Linked DNA regions of Homo sapiens. The protein of the gene in region 4 interacts with the protein of the main gene of each other region in a pairwise test. Each region holds a gene or a part of one and is shown on either strand. Other genes may lie near its edges.

Evidence for each region.
Region 1: the proteins of WTAP (region 4) and TAB1 interact in a two-hybrid assay, tested with the Homo sapiens proteins (one large-scale study listed by BioGRID and IntAct).
Region 2: the proteins of WTAP (region 4) and CTSD interact in binary tests that used the Homo sapiens proteins (3 or more experiments, as listed by UniProt).
Region 3: the proteins of WTAP (region 4) and GTSE1 interact in a two-hybrid assay, tested with the Homo sapiens proteins (one large-scale study listed by BioGRID).

The regions. Positions count from the first base shown.
Region 1 is NC_000022.11:39,423,121-39,427,279, forward strand, and holds part of TAB1 (TGF-beta-activated kinase 1 and MAP3K7-binding protein 1), read left to right. Parts: intron 1-3,582; coding exon 3,583-3,805; intron 3,806-4,159. UniProt on the Homo sapiens protein: Key adapter protein that plays an essential role in JNK and NF-kappa-B activation and proinflammatory cytokines production in response to stimulation with TLRs and cytokines.
Region 2 is NC_000011.10:1,753,928-1,758,086, forward strand, and holds part of CTSD (cathepsin D preproprotein), read right to left. Parts: intron 3,630-4,159; coding exon 3,397-3,629; intron 1,102-3,396; coding exon 979-1,101; intron 212-978; coding exon 67-211; intron 1-66. UniProt on the Homo sapiens protein: Acid protease active in intracellular protein breakdown. Plays a role in APP processing following cleavage and activation by ADAM30 which leads to APP degradation.
Region 3 is NC_000022.11:46,299,211-46,303,369, reverse strand, and holds part of GTSE1 (G2 and S phase-expressed protein 1), read right to left. Parts: intron 1-4,159. UniProt on the Homo sapiens protein: May be involved in p53-induced cell cycle arrest in G2/M phase by interfering with microtubule rearrangements that are required to enter mitosis. Overexpression delays G2/M phase progression.
Region 4 is NC_000006.12:159,753,216-159,757,716, reverse strand, and holds the end of WTAP (pre-mRNA-splicing regulator WTAP), read right to left. Parts: intron 4,258-4,501; coding exon 4,103-4,257; intron 2,690-4,102; coding exon 2,106-2,689; 3' UTR 1,398-2,105; downstream 1-1,397. UniProt on the Homo sapiens protein: Associated component of the WMM complex, a complex that mediates N6-methyladenosine (m6A) methylation of RNAs, a modification that plays a role in the efficiency of mRNA splicing and RNA processing.

The sequences.
Region 1 (4,159 bases), on a different chromosome or scaffold from region 4:
TGCCACCACACCTGGCTAATTTTGGTTGTTTTCTTTGTTTTGTTTTTTTGGTAGAGACAGGGTCTCACTGTATCGCCCAGGTTAATCTCAAACTCCTGGTCTCAAGTGATCCTCCTACCTTGGCCTCCCAAGATGCTGGGATTGTAGGCATGAGCCACTGTGCCCAGCCTGCTTTGTCCTTTTTAATTAAAAATCATGTATTGGCCGGGCACAGTGGCTCATGCTTGTAATCCCAGGACTTTGGGAAGCCGAGGCAGGCGGATCACTTGAGGTCAGGAGTTCGAGACCAGCCTGGCCAACATGGTGAAGCCCCGTCTCTACTAAAAATACAAAAATTAGCCGGGTGTGGTGGCAGGCACCTGTAATCCCAGCTACTCAGGAGGCTGAGGCAGGAGAATCGCTTGAACCCGGGAGGTGGAGGTTGCAGTGAGCCAAGATCGCACCACTGCACTCCAGCCTGAGCAACAGAGCAAGACTCTGTCTCAATCAATCAATCAATATCATGAGGAAAAAGTCTTCTTTAAAATTTGAAAATTAATTTTTATTTCAGTAGCTTTTGAGGTACCAGTATTTTTTTGTTATAGGGATGAATTATGTAGTGGTGAATTCTGAGATCTTAGTAAACCAGTTATTCCAGTAGTGTACATTGTAAGTAATGTATAGTGTTTTATAGTGTACATTGTAACTAATGTATAGTGTTTTATAGTGTACATTGTAACTAATGTATAGTGTTTTATAGTGTACATTGTAACTAATGTATAGTGTTTTATAGTGTACATTGTAACTAATGTATAGTGTTTTATAGTGTACGTTGTAACTAATGTATAGTGTTTTATAGTGTACATTGTAACTAATGTATAGTGTTTTATCCCTAGCACCACTGCCATCCTCCCGCCTTGAGTCTCTAAAGTTCCATTATATCACTCTGTATGCCTGTGCATTCCCATCATTTAGCTCCCACTTACGAGTGAGAACATAGTTTGTGGTTTTCCACTCCTGTGTTACTTAGAATAATGGCCTTCATCTCCATCCAAGTTGCTGCAAAAGACATTCATTCTTTCCTTTTACTGGCTGAGTAGTATTCCATAGTTTATAGATACATTTTCTTTATCTGCTCATTAGTCAATGGCCACTTAGGCTGGTTCCACATCTTTGCAATTGTGAATTGTGCTGCTATAAACATACGTGTGCAAGTATCTTTTTCATATAATGACTTATTTTCCTTTAGGTAGATGCCCAGACTGCTGGATTGAATGCAGATCTACTTCGAAAAAGTCTCAAGTGCCTAACTATCCCCTGTTCCCTGTGTTCTGATTTCTTTTTTTTTTTTTTTTTTTTTTTTGAGATGGAGTCTTGCTCTGTTGGCCAAGCTGGAGTGCAGTGGTGCAATCTCGGCTCACTGTAACCTCCACCTCCCGGGTTCAAGTCATTCTTCTGCCTCAGCCTCCTGAGTAGCTGGGACTACAGGCATGTGCCACCACCACACCCGGCTAATTTTTGTATTTTTAGTAGAGATGGGGTTTTGCCTTTTTGGCCAGGCTTATCTTGAACTCGTAACCTCAGATGATCCACCTGCCTTGGCCTCCCAAAGTTCTGGGATTATAGACATGAGCCACTGCGCCCAGCCTGTGTTCTGATTTCTTTACCTGTTATATAAGCTTACCATTCCTTCCAGTAGCCTTATAACATAGAGGGACAGGGGCTTATTTCCAGGTAGAGTAGGGAATTTGGGGTCCACGGAGTTCAGGTTCTTGCCAGAAGTGACGTTGCTGCTTAGTGTTGAAACTGAGCCCACCAGGACCAGGTGCAGGTCATTTCCTATTACCTGTCCCTGCCCTCCTGCCCCGCCCAAAAGAAACTTTATGATGGTGAGAAAGTGATACATATTCAGTGGGAACTGTGCTCCCATACCCCTACAACCATTCTGTTTTTCACTGTCAAAACAGTACTCAATAAATTACATGAGATTCGGCTGGGCGTGGTGGCTCACGCCTGTAATCCCAGCACTTTGGGAGGCTGAGGCGGGAAGATCACTTTAGGTCAGGAGATCGAGACCATCCTGGCTAATACGGTGAAACCCCATCTCTACTAAAAATACAAAAAAAAAAAAAAATTATCTGGTGCATAGTGACGCACGCCTGTAATCCTAGCTACTCGGGAGGCTGAGGCGGGAGAATTCTTGAACCTGGGAGATGGAACTTGCAGTGAGCTGAGATCACAGCACTGCACTCCAGCCTGGTCAACACAGTGAGACTCTGTCTCAAAAAAAAAAAAATTACATGGGATTCAACATTTTCTTATATAATAATGAAAATAGGCTTTGTGCTAGATGATTTTGCCCAGCCGTAGGCTAATAGAAGTGTTCTGAGCACATTTAAGGTAGGCTAGGCTAAGTGATGATGTTCAGTAGATTAGGTGCATTAAATGCTTTTTCTTTTCTTTTTTTTTTTTTGAGATGGAGTCTCGCTCTGTCACCCAGGCTGGAGTGCAGTGGCTCGATCTGGGCTTACTGATCACCTCCCGGGTTCACGCCATTCTGCCTCAGCCTCCCGAGTAGCTGGGACTACAGGCACCCGCCACCACGCCCGGCTAATTTTTTGTATTTTTAGTAGAGATGGGGTTTCACCGTATTAGCCAGGATGGTCTCGATCTCCTGACCTCATGATCGGCCTGCCTCAGAATCCCAAAGTGCTGAGATTACAGGTGTGAGCCACCACGCCCGGCCAAATGCTTTTTCAACTTACGATATTTTCTTTTTTTTTTTTTTTTTGAGACAGAGTCTTGCCCTGTTGGCCAGGCTGGTCTCGGCTCCCTGCAACCTCCGTCTCCTGGGCTCAAGCAATTCTCCTGCCTCAGCCTCTCAAGTTGCTGGGATTACAGGCATGTGCCACCATGCCCAGCTAATTTTTGTATTTTTAAGTAGAGACGGGGTTTCAACATGTTGGCCAAGCTGGTCTCGATCTCCTGACCTCTGGCAGTCCTCCCACCTCAGCCTCCCAAAGTGCTGGGATTACAGGCGCAAGCCACTGTGCCCGGTCAACTTATGATATTTTCAACTTACAGTGGGTTTGTCAGGACATAGTCCCATCCTAAATTGAGGAACATCTGTATACTAGACAGGGACTTCTCTGAGGTCAGGGACCCTGTTTTCATTCTGTATCCCCAGTTCCTGACAAAATCCTAGCATGTATAACATCGCCTACAACAAGTTTGTTCCAGGAAAGAGTGTTTCATAATAATGACACTTGCTACTAGGCTTTTTAGTGGCTGGCAGAGTGCTCTCACACCACTGTTAGTTAATACTCGTATTCACCCAGTCAAATGGATGTTCTCCCCATCCTAGAGGTGTGCACCCAACAATTAGAGCAATCACAAGAGCACACACTTCCTAATGAGAAAGTTCCAGAAGGATTATCCTGAATACCTTGAAAGGCTCAGATTGCAAACTTGGCTGGCAGGCATTTCCTTCACCTGCTGGGCTGTTGACCACTGAATCTCCTGATTTTAGGCTCCAAGATTATGGCCCATGCCCCCCAGGCCGCACCTCGTTCCTTACCAGGTTCTTCCTACCCCCTCCCCCAGGAGATTGCTGCGATGATTGACACTGAGTTTGCCAAGCAGACCTCCCTGGACGCAGTGGCCCAGGCCGTCGTGGACCGGGTGAAGCGCATCCACAGCGACACCTTCGCCAGTGGTGGGGAGCGTGCCAGGTTCTGCCCCCGGCACGAGGACATGACCCTGCTAGTGAGGAACTTTGGCTACCCGCTGGGCGAAATGAGCCAGCCCACACCGAGCCCAGCCCCAGGTACGTGTGCTGTGCAGACAGGCAGTGCCTGGGGATGCCATCTGGGGGCCAGAGGTGGGTGCAGAGCCCCCGAGGCTGCTTGAAACGGAGATGGAGTCAGGAGGCCTGGCTCTGAGTGGCTCTAATTCAGGTTCTCTGATTTTTAGCCTCTCTGAGCTGAGTGTTGATTTTTGCTCTTTTGTCTGTAAAATGAGGTTAATACCACCTGCCCCGGCAACCTCCCAGAACCTGAGTGCCCCAGCAAGCAATTCACAGAGCCCTGAAGCCACATAATAGAGATGATGGCCACCACTGATTGAGTGCCTCCCTTGTGCCAGGCACACAGCCTGCCTTATTCCCTTCAGTCCTCATGGG
Region 2 (4,159 bases), on a different chromosome or scaffold from region 4:
GTGGTAGTGGTGGCCTTGGGGCTCCCCCTGCCAGCCCCAGCCCCAGCCCCAGCCCCCGGCGCTCACCTCGCCCTGAATCAGCGGCACGGCCCCGATGGCCTTCTGCAGCTCGCGCACCTCATCCACCGGGCCCACCATGAGGGAAGTGCCTGTGTCCACAATGGCCTCACAGCCCTCCTTGCACAGGGTCAGCCCGCTGGCCACCTCCACCCTGCGGGGAGTCAGGGCGTGAAGCCCCTGCCGGGACTGGAGTGTGCCCTGGGGGCCCAGTGCCCCTCCCTGGGAGCCCCTCCCCTGGCTGGGCTGCACTCTCCTCCCCTCAGGGCTCCTGGAAGCACAGCCGGCTGTAAGCCCTCCAGGGAAGAGGGTGGGAGAGGAGACACAGAGTGGTAGAGGGGGTGGGAGACCCTCAGGTGGTGGTGAGGGGCATGGAGGGATGGAGGGGATGGAGGGGCATAGAGGGATGGAGGGGATGGAGGGGATGAAGGGATGGAGGGGCATGGAGGGATGGAGGGATGGAGGGATAGACAGATGGAGGGGATGGAGGGTCATGGAGAGTCACAGAGGGATGTGGGGATGGAGGGATGGAGGGATGGAGGGGATGGAGGGATGGAGGGATGGAGGGGATGGAGGGATGGAGGAGATGGAGGGTCATGAAGAGTCACAGAGGGATGAGGGGATGGAGGGGATGGAGGGCATGGAGGGATGGACAGAAGGGATGGTGGGTCATGGAGAGTCACAGAGGCATGGAGGAAATGGAGGGATGGAGGGATAGAGGGAATAGAGGGGATGGAGGTGATGGGGAGCATGGAGGGGCAAGGAGGGGCATGGAGGGCTGGTCTGACCCCATCTCTTTCTTGCCCAGCTCCCACTACTCCCCACATGCAACCCCCACCTGCAGAACCGGGGTCCTCCAGGGTCTCCGCACACCGCCCCCGCCCACAGAACCCAGGGGAGCCGACTGCAGCCACTACTCACTGGTCCAGGTGGACCTGCCAGTAGGCCTTGCGGGTGACATTCAGGTAGGACAGAGAACCCTTGTAATACTTGGAGTCTGTGCCACCCAGCATCAGCTCACCCCCAGGCTGCGCATCTGGGTCCCTAGGAGGAAAAGGGAGGAGTCAGCTGCCACGCCACCCCCCAAGCACAAGAGTGCCAGGTCAGGAGTAAGAGGGTGAATGTGGCAATCAGGGAGAGCTTCCTGAAGGAGGGGCCTTTCTGAAACTGCAGGGATGGAAAGGCCCAGAAGGCAGGAGGAGGGACAGACTCCCTTCTTCCCGGGGTAGGGCTGCTCTGCGTGGGCCCAGCCTGGCCCAGAAGAGGTTTTCCTCAACCCTCAGGTTCTCCTGGTCTGCTCAGGAGCCAAGGTTCAGCCAGACATCAGGGTCAAGGCTAGCGGCAGACAAGGAAGTGAGTGCCAGGAGCTCCACTGGGGAGGACCCTGTCTGTCTGTCTGGAAGAAAAAACCAAAGAAGGCTTCCAGGAGGGAGTGATGGCACAATCTGGGAAGTTGGGATGGCTGGTTCTGGCCGCAGGGCCTCTGCACTGGCTGCTCCTGGGAACACCCTCCACCTGCATCCCCGAGCCACGTCCGCTCATCTCCCCCTCATCCAGACCACTGATGGCCAGCCAAGGTGCTCCTGGGCAGGAGCGCACTGCACTTCCTAGGACCTGCAACCCATGTCGCCCGGGTTTGTTTCTAAACATTGCTCAAGTACAGCTTTCAACGCAGCAAATCCTGCCGGTCCTGGTAGAGAAGCTCTCTGTGTCTGGGGCGGTTCTGCCATCCCGCCAGAGCGTCTGCAGCTAAGCTGGCCACCATCCCACTGCCTGTCACTCGAGGCAGTGCCAGGCCTGACCCAGTCCTCCCAACACCGATTGGGGCCTCCGCCCTCCTCCAGCCTCCTCCGCCTTTGCCTCTTGTCAACACCTCTGCAATCCCAAGTGTAGAAACCTGATCAGCGCCTCCCACCCCTCCTCTCCTCACCAAACATGCTTTCAGAAGCCCTCAGACCCTCCCTCCTGCCTGGCTCCACTTCCTGCCCAAGCTGCTGCCTTGAGACTACACCTGGGCACTCACAACCATGTGCACCTCCCCCACCTGGGCACTCACTCTGTGTGCCCCTCCTTCCACCTGGCACTCATGCCTGTGTATGCCTCCCCCGACCTGGGTACTCATACCGTGTGCCCCTCCCCCACATGGGCACTCATGCTGTGTGCCCCTCCCCCACATGGGCATTCATGCCTGTGTCCCCCTCCCTGACCTGGGTACTCAGGCTGTGTGCCCCCTCCCCATGTGGGCACTCATGCCTGCATGCCCTCTTGCCCTCAGGGGACCCCTTTTCACCTGGCTGCCTCCCCTGTGCCCCAAGGCTCCTGGGGAAATGGCCCAGCCGGTTCACCTGTGTCCTGGCCTCTAGTGAGCAGCTTAGCCCTGGGTGTTGCTAAGGAGTATTCACTGCCCAGGCAAGGGGCAGAGCAAAGAGGCCCAGCCAGCCCTACAGCCGGAATTCTGCCGGAAGCGATCCAAGGTTAGGGGTCAGGCCCAGAGACTCCAAGTGCCAAGTGAGCCACGTGAGGTAAACCTGCCCCTGTCAGCCCTGGAGAGTGTGGGGCAGTGACCAGGCGCAGCTCAGGGCAGGAGGCCGCCGGCTGACACGCTGCCCACCCCCAAAACAAAAGCCCCCAACCCCCAGTCACCCCTCTTATGTGGAACCCTCCACTCAGGTCTGCCCCGAGAAGAGGAAACTAACTGAGTCCGACGTCCCCTTCCCAAGGTCACCTGACCATGGGTCACCCAAGCTGGAGCAGCGGCTGCAGGTGGGGGCCCTGGGGGAGAACCCTTTTCCCAGAAGGAAGGGCCCCCTATGTTCCTCCTCGAGGGCAGCCGGCACCTGCTGGGGACGCCCACAGAGCTGCTCGCAGCGTGGTGCCGGGGACCCATACGCACCCAAGGTCACCTCCCCGGGGATCCCCGGTCCCCTGGGCACCATGACCCTCTCCACCATCAGCAACCCCGGGACCAGGACCACATGTGCCCATCACCAGGTCTGGGGACCGACGGGCCGACTGAACCAAGAGGAACTGCCACGACCCCTGACCTGGGTCCATTCTCATAGGAGGGAGGCCCAGCTGCCAAGGTCCCAGGACCCACAGCCTGGCCCGAGCCCCTCCCACTGGGAGACCCCGGCCAAACAGCTTTCTCTGTGCTGCCGCTTACTCCTCTGCAGAAGGGCGGCCAACCCCCGCCTCCCGGATGCCCTGAGGTCAGAGGTCAGGAGCTCTGGCACAGCAGCAGGGAGGGGGCAGCACTGAGAGGGGGTGCCTAGAAGGCTCCCCGTCCAGCCCCGCCCTGCCTCCCAGCAACGCGGAGCGAGAGGGAACCCACACGCCCACCTGCTCAGGTAGAAGGAGAAGATGTTCTGGTCCACCAGCTTCTGCTGCATCAGGTTGTCGAAGACGGGCAGCACGTTGTTGACGGAGATGCGGGGGTAGGCCATGCCCAGGATGCCATCGAACTTGGCTGCGATGAAGGTGATGCCTGGCTGCTTGGTGGCCTCCCCAAAGACCTGCCTCTCCACTTTGACACCGCCCAGGGCAGAGGCTGACGACGCTGACTGGCAGGGCACCTGCAGGCCAGGGCAGAGTCAGTGGGCAGCAGACAGGCTGAGCCCTACACCACTCCCTGAGCATGAGGCTACAAAACCCAGTTCAATGGATGCCCATCCCACACACGATGGGGCCCAGAGGGCCCAGAAGAAAGGGCTGGAAACCCTGAGCTGAACACCGCTGGGGATGGGGACACGGGGTATGGCGGGGCCCTCTTCGTGGAAGTCATCAGGGCTCGGTTTACACGAGATGGGAACCAGGCAGGAGCACAGACGGGCAGGCCCCTTGCTCCGCTCCCTGCTCCGACCTCTTACTCCCACCACCAATGACAGGCAGGTCCTGCTCCTGCCCTCAGCGCTGGGAACAAGACACAGCCTGGGCCAGGAGCCCGAGAGATGGGGAACCTGCCGACCCCATCCCAAGCTCACAGCCATACTGCCCCCTTCCCCTTCTCTGCCTGTCCCCTCCCCCAGCCCTGGATGAGGCTGCAGAGAGAGAACACGGCCAGAGCAGGATGTGGGAAGGGAACGACAGCTTGAGGCTGACACGG
Region 3 (4,159 bases), on a different chromosome or scaffold from region 4:
CATATCTACAAAGAACAGTGAGAAGATAACATGGAAGAAAATACTTCGTTTCTAGCAGCAACGAAAGATGCAAAATAACGATAAACAAACCTAACAAGAAATATGCAAAATGGATATAAAGAAGACTTGGCATATCATAAAAGTAACATATCAAATAAAGAGGGAAAGTAGACCGGGCAGGGTGGCTCACATCTGTAATCCCAGCACTTTGGGAGGCCGAGGAGGGTGGATCACAAGGTCAGGAGATCGAGACCATCCTGGCTAACACGGTGAAACCCCATCTCTACTAAAAAATACAAAAAATTAGCCGGGTGTGGTGGCAGGTGCCTGTAGTCCCAGCTACTTGGGAGGCTGATGCAGAAGAATGGCATGAACCTGGGAGGCGGAGCTTGCAGTGAGCCAAGATCACGCCACTGCACTCCAGCCTGGGTGACAGAGCAAGACTCCAACTCAAAGAAAAAAAAAAAAAAAAAAGAGGGAAAGTGAAAAAATGGTATTAAAATAAACTACATAATCATCTGGAAAAATGCCAACTAAGTTTGGTCCATGCCTCACACCACATCAGGCCTAATTCCAAACAAATCAAGGACTTAATGGAAAAAAAACAAAGCCCTAAACAAACAAGAATCAGCTATGAGGAAACTTTTGTAACTTGGGAGTGTGGACTTCTAACTATGACACTAAACTGGAAGCTACCAAAGATTGGTCGGCTGGGCCCAGTGGCTCACATCTGTAATCCCAGCACTTTGGGAGGCTGAGGTGGGAGGAACGCTTGAGCCTAGGAGTTTGAGACCAGCCTAGACAACATAGGGAGACCTTGTCTGTACAAAAAATACAAAAATTAGCTAGGCGTGGTAGTCTCAGCTACCAGGGAGGCTTAGGAAGGAGGATCGCATGAGCCTGGGAGGTCAAAGCTGCAGTGAGCCACAATCTCGCCACTACACTCAGGCCCAGGCAACAGAACAAGAACATGTCTCAGAAAATAAATAAATAAAAAATAAAAGATTGACCTTCAAACATTAAAATTTTAACATCTCTGTGTGGCAAAAATCACAATAAGTTAAACAAGAAATGGGGAAAAGAATATTTGCAACTCAGTTCATAAAGGGCTAATTCATGAAGCATATCTATAAAGTAATAAAAAATTAATAATCTAATAAAGATAGAAAAAGGATACAAACAGATAAAGTTCACAGAAAATAAAACAAAACATTCTTTTTTATTTTTCTTTATTTACTTTTTTTGAGACGGAGTTTCACTCTTGTTGCTCAGGCTGGAGTGCAATGGCGCGATCTTGGCTCACCGCAACCTCTGCCTCCTGGGTTCAAGCGATTCTCCTGCCCTAGCCTCCCAAGTAGCTGGGATCAGTATGAACCAGCATGTCTGGCTAATTTTGTATTTTTAGTAGAGACGGGGTTTCTGCATGTTGGTCAGGCTGGTCTGGAACTCCCGATCTCAGGTGATCCGCCCACCCTGGCCTCCCAAAGTGTTGGGATGACAGGCGCAAGCCACCGCACCTGGCCGAAACATTCTTAAATAGATGGCAAGAAGTTCAGCCTCACTCAAAAATAAGAGTAATGAGGCTGGGCGCTGTGGCTCCCACCTATAATCCCAGCACTTTGGAAGGTCGAGGCGGGTGGATCACCTGAGGTCAGGAGTTCGAGACCAGCCTGGCCAACATGGTGAAACCTCATCTTTACTAAAAATACAAAAAATTAGCCAGGCCTGGTGGCAGGTGCCTGTAATCCCAGCTACTTGGGAGGCTGAGGCAGGAGAATTGCTGGAACCTGAGAGGGGGAGTTTGCAGTGAGCCGAGATCGCACCATTGCACTCCAGCCTAGGGGACAAAAGGGAAACTCTGTCTTAAAAAAAAAAAAAAAAAGTATTAAAAATAAACTTGCTCTGAGAATGCAGTTTTCGCCTATATGACTGGCAAAACTCAAAGATGTATGAACTATAGGCAAGGTTGTGGGGAAAGAGACAATTTCTACACTGCTGGGGAAGGTGTAAATTATCACAGCTCTCTAGAGGGCCTGGCAGTACCTATCGAAGTAAGAAACACACACCCTCTTCGACCCAGCAAGTCTACTTCTGCAAGTGTATCCTACAGACACTCACAGGTGTGGAAAGCAATGTGTTGTGCAGTTACACGGTGTCCACAGTTATTTACTGCAGCATCATTGGTAACAGCAAGACTCTAGGCACAAACTAAATGTTCACCCACAGCAGATGAGATGAATGACATATCCCCAAGGTGGAACCCTATATAGGTACAAAAGCTAGTAATGCTCTTCATGTGTTGATACACAATATTCATCAAGATAAATTAAGCCTGAAAAACAAGATTCAGGACAGGGCTCTCCATGCTATATGGAAAGGGGGATGCAACACTCTATGCGTGTTGGCTTGCACCTGCACAAATTATGTCTGGAAGGATACCCAAGAGACTGATGACATCGATGGCCCTTGGAAGGGCAAGTAGGTGACTTAGAGATATAGAGAGGCAGACATTTCACTTTTTACACCTCTAAATTAGGAAGTCAATTTCAGAAACTTCTAATGGTCTGGCGTGGAAAAAGAATCCAGGACCAGAACTCAGGGAAGCAGTCTTCTGCTCCAGGCTCTGTGACTGGCTCCGAGGGGTCCCGGGCTGGCTGACTTGCTCATCCTGCAAACACATGAGCACCCACAACAGACCACATCCTTCGCTAGGTGCCAGGCAGGCTTGGGGTACATGCAGCCCACCCTGGAGGGTGCCTCAGGCAGTGCGGTGAGAGACATGTAGAGGTGGGAACACCTCTGAGAAAATATCAAAGCGTGTGTGAGAGGAACGGGTCAGAAGTCAGAGTGGCTGGAAGAGGTGAAAACACAAGTTGGGTCAGATCACAGAGGGTTTGCAAGCCATGGCAAGGAGCTTTTATTTTCTCCAAAGTGGGATAGGAAACTATTACCGGGCTTTAAGAAAAGAATTTTAGGCCTGGCGTGGTAGCTCATGCCTGTAATCCCAGCACAGTGGTAGGCTGAGGCAGGCGGATCACTTGAGGTCGAGTTCGAGACCGTCCTGACCAACATGGTGAAACCCCGTCTCTACTGAAAATACAAAACTTAGCTGGGCACGGTGGCTCATGCCTTTAATCCCAGCTACTCAGGAGGCTGAGGCAGGGGAATCACTTGAACCCAGGAGACGGAGGTTGCAGTGAGCCAAGATGTCGCCACTGCACTCCAGCCTGGTGACAGAACGAGACTCCATCTCAAAAAGAAAAAAAAGGCTGAGCACAGTGGCTCATGCCTGTAATCCCAGCACTTCCGGAGGCCCAGGCGGGCAGATCACGAGGTCAGGAGATTGAGACCATCCTGGCTAACACAGTGAAACCCCATCTCTACTAAAAAAAAAAAAAAAAAAAAAAAAATTAGCTGGGCGTGGTGGCGGGCGCCTGTAGTCCCAGATACTCAGGAGGCTGAGGCAGGAGAATTGCTTGAACCCAAGAGGCGGAGGTTGCAGTAAGCCGAGATCACGCCACTGCACTCCAGCCTGGCCAACAGTGAGACTCTGTCTCAAAAAAAAAAAAGAAAAAGAAAAAAGAAAAGAAAAGAGCTTTATAATCTAACTTGTGTTTTTAAAAGGTGACGTTACTGTGTAGAAAGTGTATCCGAAAGGAAGCAGATAATATCCCCTGACATTACAAATGCACATATTAGCCAACGGGAAGTAGAAGCCGGTGAGACAGCGTGGCTGAGACCCAGACAGCAGCATGTGGATGGAGATGGAGAGTCTGTAGATGGATTCAGGATATCTTCTGAAGGTGGAGAAGACGTTAGCTGGTGATGGCATGAATGTAGGAGGTTCTCAGCTTGCACAGCTGGGTGAAATGGAGAAATAAAATGGGTGATGAGAAAGACAAAAAGAACAGGGTATGCAGATGCAGAGGGGGTATGCCAAGTTTGAGATGAGACGTGCATGTGAAGACGCCAAATAGGCAGGTGAATATACAAGCCCAGAGCTCGGAGGAGAGGCTGCGCTCAAGACAAAACGTGGGTGCCGCAGAGAGCAGATACGCTGCACAGCTATTGGAATGCTGACCGCCCTGAGGGCGAAAGCACAAAGCGGTCCCAGAGCAGGTCTTGGGGAAATCAGCCTCAGAAGACAGCAGAGGGGGAG
Region 4 (4,501 bases):
AATCAAGGTTGGGCGCGGTGGCTCACACCTGTAATCCCAGCACTTTGGGAGGCCGAGGTGGGTGGATCACAAGGTCAGGAGTTCGAGACCAGCCTGGCCAACACAGTGAAACCTCATCTCTTCTAAAAATACAAAAATAAGCCGGGCATGGTGGCGCACGCCTGTAATCCCAGCTACTCAGGAGTCTGAGGCAGGAGAATTACTTGAATCCGGGAGGTGGAGGTTGCAGTGAGCCACGATGGTGCCACTGCACTCCAGCCTGGGTGGCAGAGCGAGACTCTCGGCAAAAAAAAAAAAGAGAAAAAGAAAAAAAAGAAAAGGTTAATCAAGAGACAGTGCAGTATTTAACATACTGCTGAAGACCGGATATACCTGTATCAGCTAAACAAGCAAAAGCAGCAATTACTTTCAAATAAGTTGTACCTCAGTTTTCGAGTATTATAACTCCACTCCCAAGGTTCCTTGATTGTATTACAAGTTATGTCTAAAACAATACTTTGCTTTTAACAGAAATGGAATTTCATTTCAACCATATATGAAAGCTACACATTTGAAGGCCATTCAATATCATACTTTTATACTTAATTACCTCTGAGAAAATGGAGCAAATTTTGACATTCTTCCACCTTAAAAACATTTTCTCCTACCTACATTCTAACACCCCTTACTCATATAATATTACCAGATATGTTGTTAGTAAAAATCAGTAGTGCTGGCCAGCGTTTTAAAACAAACATCACTAACTACAAAGATACTCTACTTGAAATCAGGTCACAAAAAACCAACGCTGCTTTTCAATTAAAACTCAAAAAGGGCCAGGAGCTGTAGCTCACTCCTGCAATCCCAACACGTTGGGAAGCCAAGGCAGAAGGATCCCTTGGGGCCAGGAGTTTGAGGCCAGCCTGTGCAACATAGCGAGGCCTTGTCTCTACTAAAATTAAAATAAATGTAGCTGGGTGTGGTAGTATATGCCTATAGTCTCAGGTACTCGGAAGCCTGAAGTGGGAGGATCACTTGAGTCGAGGACTTTGAGGCTGCAGTGAGCCATGACTGCACCACTGCACTTGAGCCTAAGTGACAAAGCAAGACCCTGTCTCAATTAAAAAAAAAAAAAAAAAAAAAGCCTAAGAAATAGATGACTATTTTCTTTATACTTTTCTGTATTTTAAAATATTTTGTAACAATTATAAGTCAAGAAAAAATTTTAAGTGTAGCCCTAAACTCCAGCTCCGTTTTGCAAAATAAGGCATAAATTAAAAATTGTGTGCAAAATCGTAATCGATGCTTGGTCTTAAGTTTGACTGTTGTGGTACTTGAAGGATAATGAGTAGAAATTCAATGACTCAATGAAAATGACAAATGCTAAACATACACCCAAAACAAAACAAAAAAGCTAATTAAGGAGTTACAATAAAAATCTTTATTTAGGTTTGGTCAGTACAGGTAAGATATACTGGAGTCACAGAGCAATATGCATTAACAGGATACAACAGTTCATAAAAACTGAGTAACTATGCACACAAATTTCTTAAACAGTCACCTAAAGAGAAAATGCACAGATGTATGGTGGAAAAAACTGTATCTAACACTGAAACTACTACAGGACTCCATCAATGAGTCCAACTTTTAGTGATAAAAAACTACTGTACTGGGCAAACTTGGCAGTCATAAACCCACATCTACTCTAACAAGTCTGAATGGTGCATAAGTACAGTAACAGCATGAGTACGAATGCCCTTACACAGCACAGATTCTAAACAGACAGATTTATACAGACATCATTGTGTTGTATTTTAAGGAAAAATTTCCATTTACAATTTCACATTAACTCATATAAAAATAACTTGACCCTACACAAAATGTCCTTTTAGCAACATTCAAAGTAATTAACTGTTACAATTTCCAAAGCGGCAGAAGTATTGAAGCAAAAAAAAAAAAAAAAAAAAAAAAAGAAAAGAAAAAAAAAACAAAGAAAAAAAACAACAAAAAAAAACCAAAACGTACACCCACAAAAAGGCAAATTGTGACAAAAGTATGCATTAATTTTCTGGACAGTATCCTCTCCCAAATTAAATGACACTGTATAAAAATTTGCTGAAAAAATATTACAAAACTGAACCCTGTACATTTACACTTGAGTCCAAGCCATTCTGAACGTGGCGGGAACCCACAGTTCGATTACCTTTCCCACTCACTGCTTTCTCCTCTTGAGGGTCATGACTGGAGTCTGTGTCATTTGATTGGTGTGTGAGAGAGTTTTCACTGCCCGTGGGAGAGTCTACACTTTCATACCCCGCACTGAGTTGATTTACGTAACCACTACCTCCTCTGCCAGTTCTCTCCTCTGAGCTGTTGGAGGACTTATTACCATTCCCTGGAGAAGAAGGAAAGTCATCTTCGGTTGTGTTGCCCTCCCTGTGAAATCCAGACCCAGACGTCCTCTGGCGGGAGGAGCTACCATTACTTGGTCCGTTTGTCAGACGACTGCAGTCTTTACTTGTGGCCTCTGACTGTTCTACAGGTTCAGAAGCTGTAGTCCTGCTGGTACTTGGGGCAGAGGCCTGAGACTGCTGCTGCTGGTACTGAGCCAACTGCTGGCGTGTCTCCTTCAGCTGCTGCTGCAGAACTAGAATGGTACTCTGCATACCCTCTACTTCTTCATCAAGCTGGATGATGAAGTCATTCAGTTCTGTGCAAAGGAGAGTCAGACCAACTTTAATATCGTTTATAACATTGAAAAATGTTTCTTTAGTGCCTGCCACAAAGCAAGGGAGTCAATAAACGCTCAAGTAAACAAATACAATTCTAAAATCACACTACATTTAAAAATTTTGCTTGGAATCTTAAAATATGACTGAGTTTGTTTTGGGGGAAGTCAGATACTTAAAATAATATACAGTTGGCCCTCCACATGCAACAATGAATTCAAGCAACTGTAGAAGGAAAATATTCAAGGAAGAAAAAACTGGGTCTATACTGAACATGTACAGATTTTTTTTCTTGTCATTATCCCCCAAACAATACAGTAAAATAACTATTTTCCTAGCATTTATATTGTATTAGGTACTGTTAATCTAGAGATGGCTCAAAGGGGAAGATGTACATAGGTTTATATGTAAATATGACATCATTTTATATGAGGGGCTTACTGTGGGAGGTCCTGACACCAATCCACCATGGATACCGAGGGCAACTGTATTAAGCAACCAAGTTAAAATTGTTTTGATCCATCTTGCCATATGCCTGATTACAGCCCCAAAGTTTGACTCACGTTTACCTATGGGCCCACTATGGCCAATCCCCTTATTCCTGATCCAGTGCCTTAGTTCCATAGCAAGTCTGATCCTTAAGGATAGTGTGGTCCTCTATAACACTCCAAAGAGGCCCATGTTCTCAACCAAGGACTGTTACATATAAAAGGACAAAAGTCACAGGAAATAATTCCTGAAGATTTTGAAAAGGTAGGTAGTTCAGAAGAAATTACTTGGCTACTGATCATCTTTGCAATTAACCAGAGACACTAATTTTCAATTTAAAATTTCAAAGAATTTGGATATTTTCCTTATTAATAATGCACCTTACAAAGAAGAGAAACAGAGATACAGCTACACTTGCACTAAAAAGGATGGAGGCTGACAAGTTTTATCTCAGCAAATTTAAAGATTAAATCTCTTATTCACTAATAAAACCTTCACAGATACAATCAACTTTATTACTTTCAGATCGCTGAAAACTGCCCATGTTTCTAAGATTTACACTTAACGAGAAATGCTTATTCTCCCTTTCAAACAATGAATACAAATTTGTCCATCTTGTTAAGTAATACAACACCCTTTTATCTTTTACCAAATCCTACCCCCAACTAAAAACAAAAATGTAAGAAATTTTGAACAATAAAGAATTAGGAGGGTGGGGATAAACAAACTAAAATTATATGGCTTTGTTTGCGGACTCAACTAAAAATGCTTCACTCACAATAATATACAATCATAGGGCAGAGGTTAACAATGTACAGAATCTAACCTATAATATTCATGACTGGCAGTTTTAAAAAGCCAATGCAAAGTTGAGACAACGTTCCAAAAAGAAACAAACCCCTTACCATCCTGACTGCTTTTAAGCTCCTCACTGTATTTCTTCTGTAAAGCCAACTCTGCTTCAAGTTGTGCAATACGTCCCTGGGACAGCTGCCTTCCAAGCTCTTGATTCTCCTGGATAAGCATTCGACACTTCGCCATTAACTTTTTCCCTGTTTGGCTGCAAAGGAAAGAGCCATCCATCACAAAATGAAGACAAAACTCTCTGTCTTTGCTTACAATTATTACAGTGATAGATGTAACACATACAAACATAACTATATCACAGCAGATGCTTCCCCATAATTACCATCTTCTTTTCTGGGACACATCCATCTTCTGCATTTCAGTATTTTGCCAACACAGCAGTAAAAATAAACCCTAAACAAAAAGTGCCCAAACAGCTACACCTTGTTTCTATTACA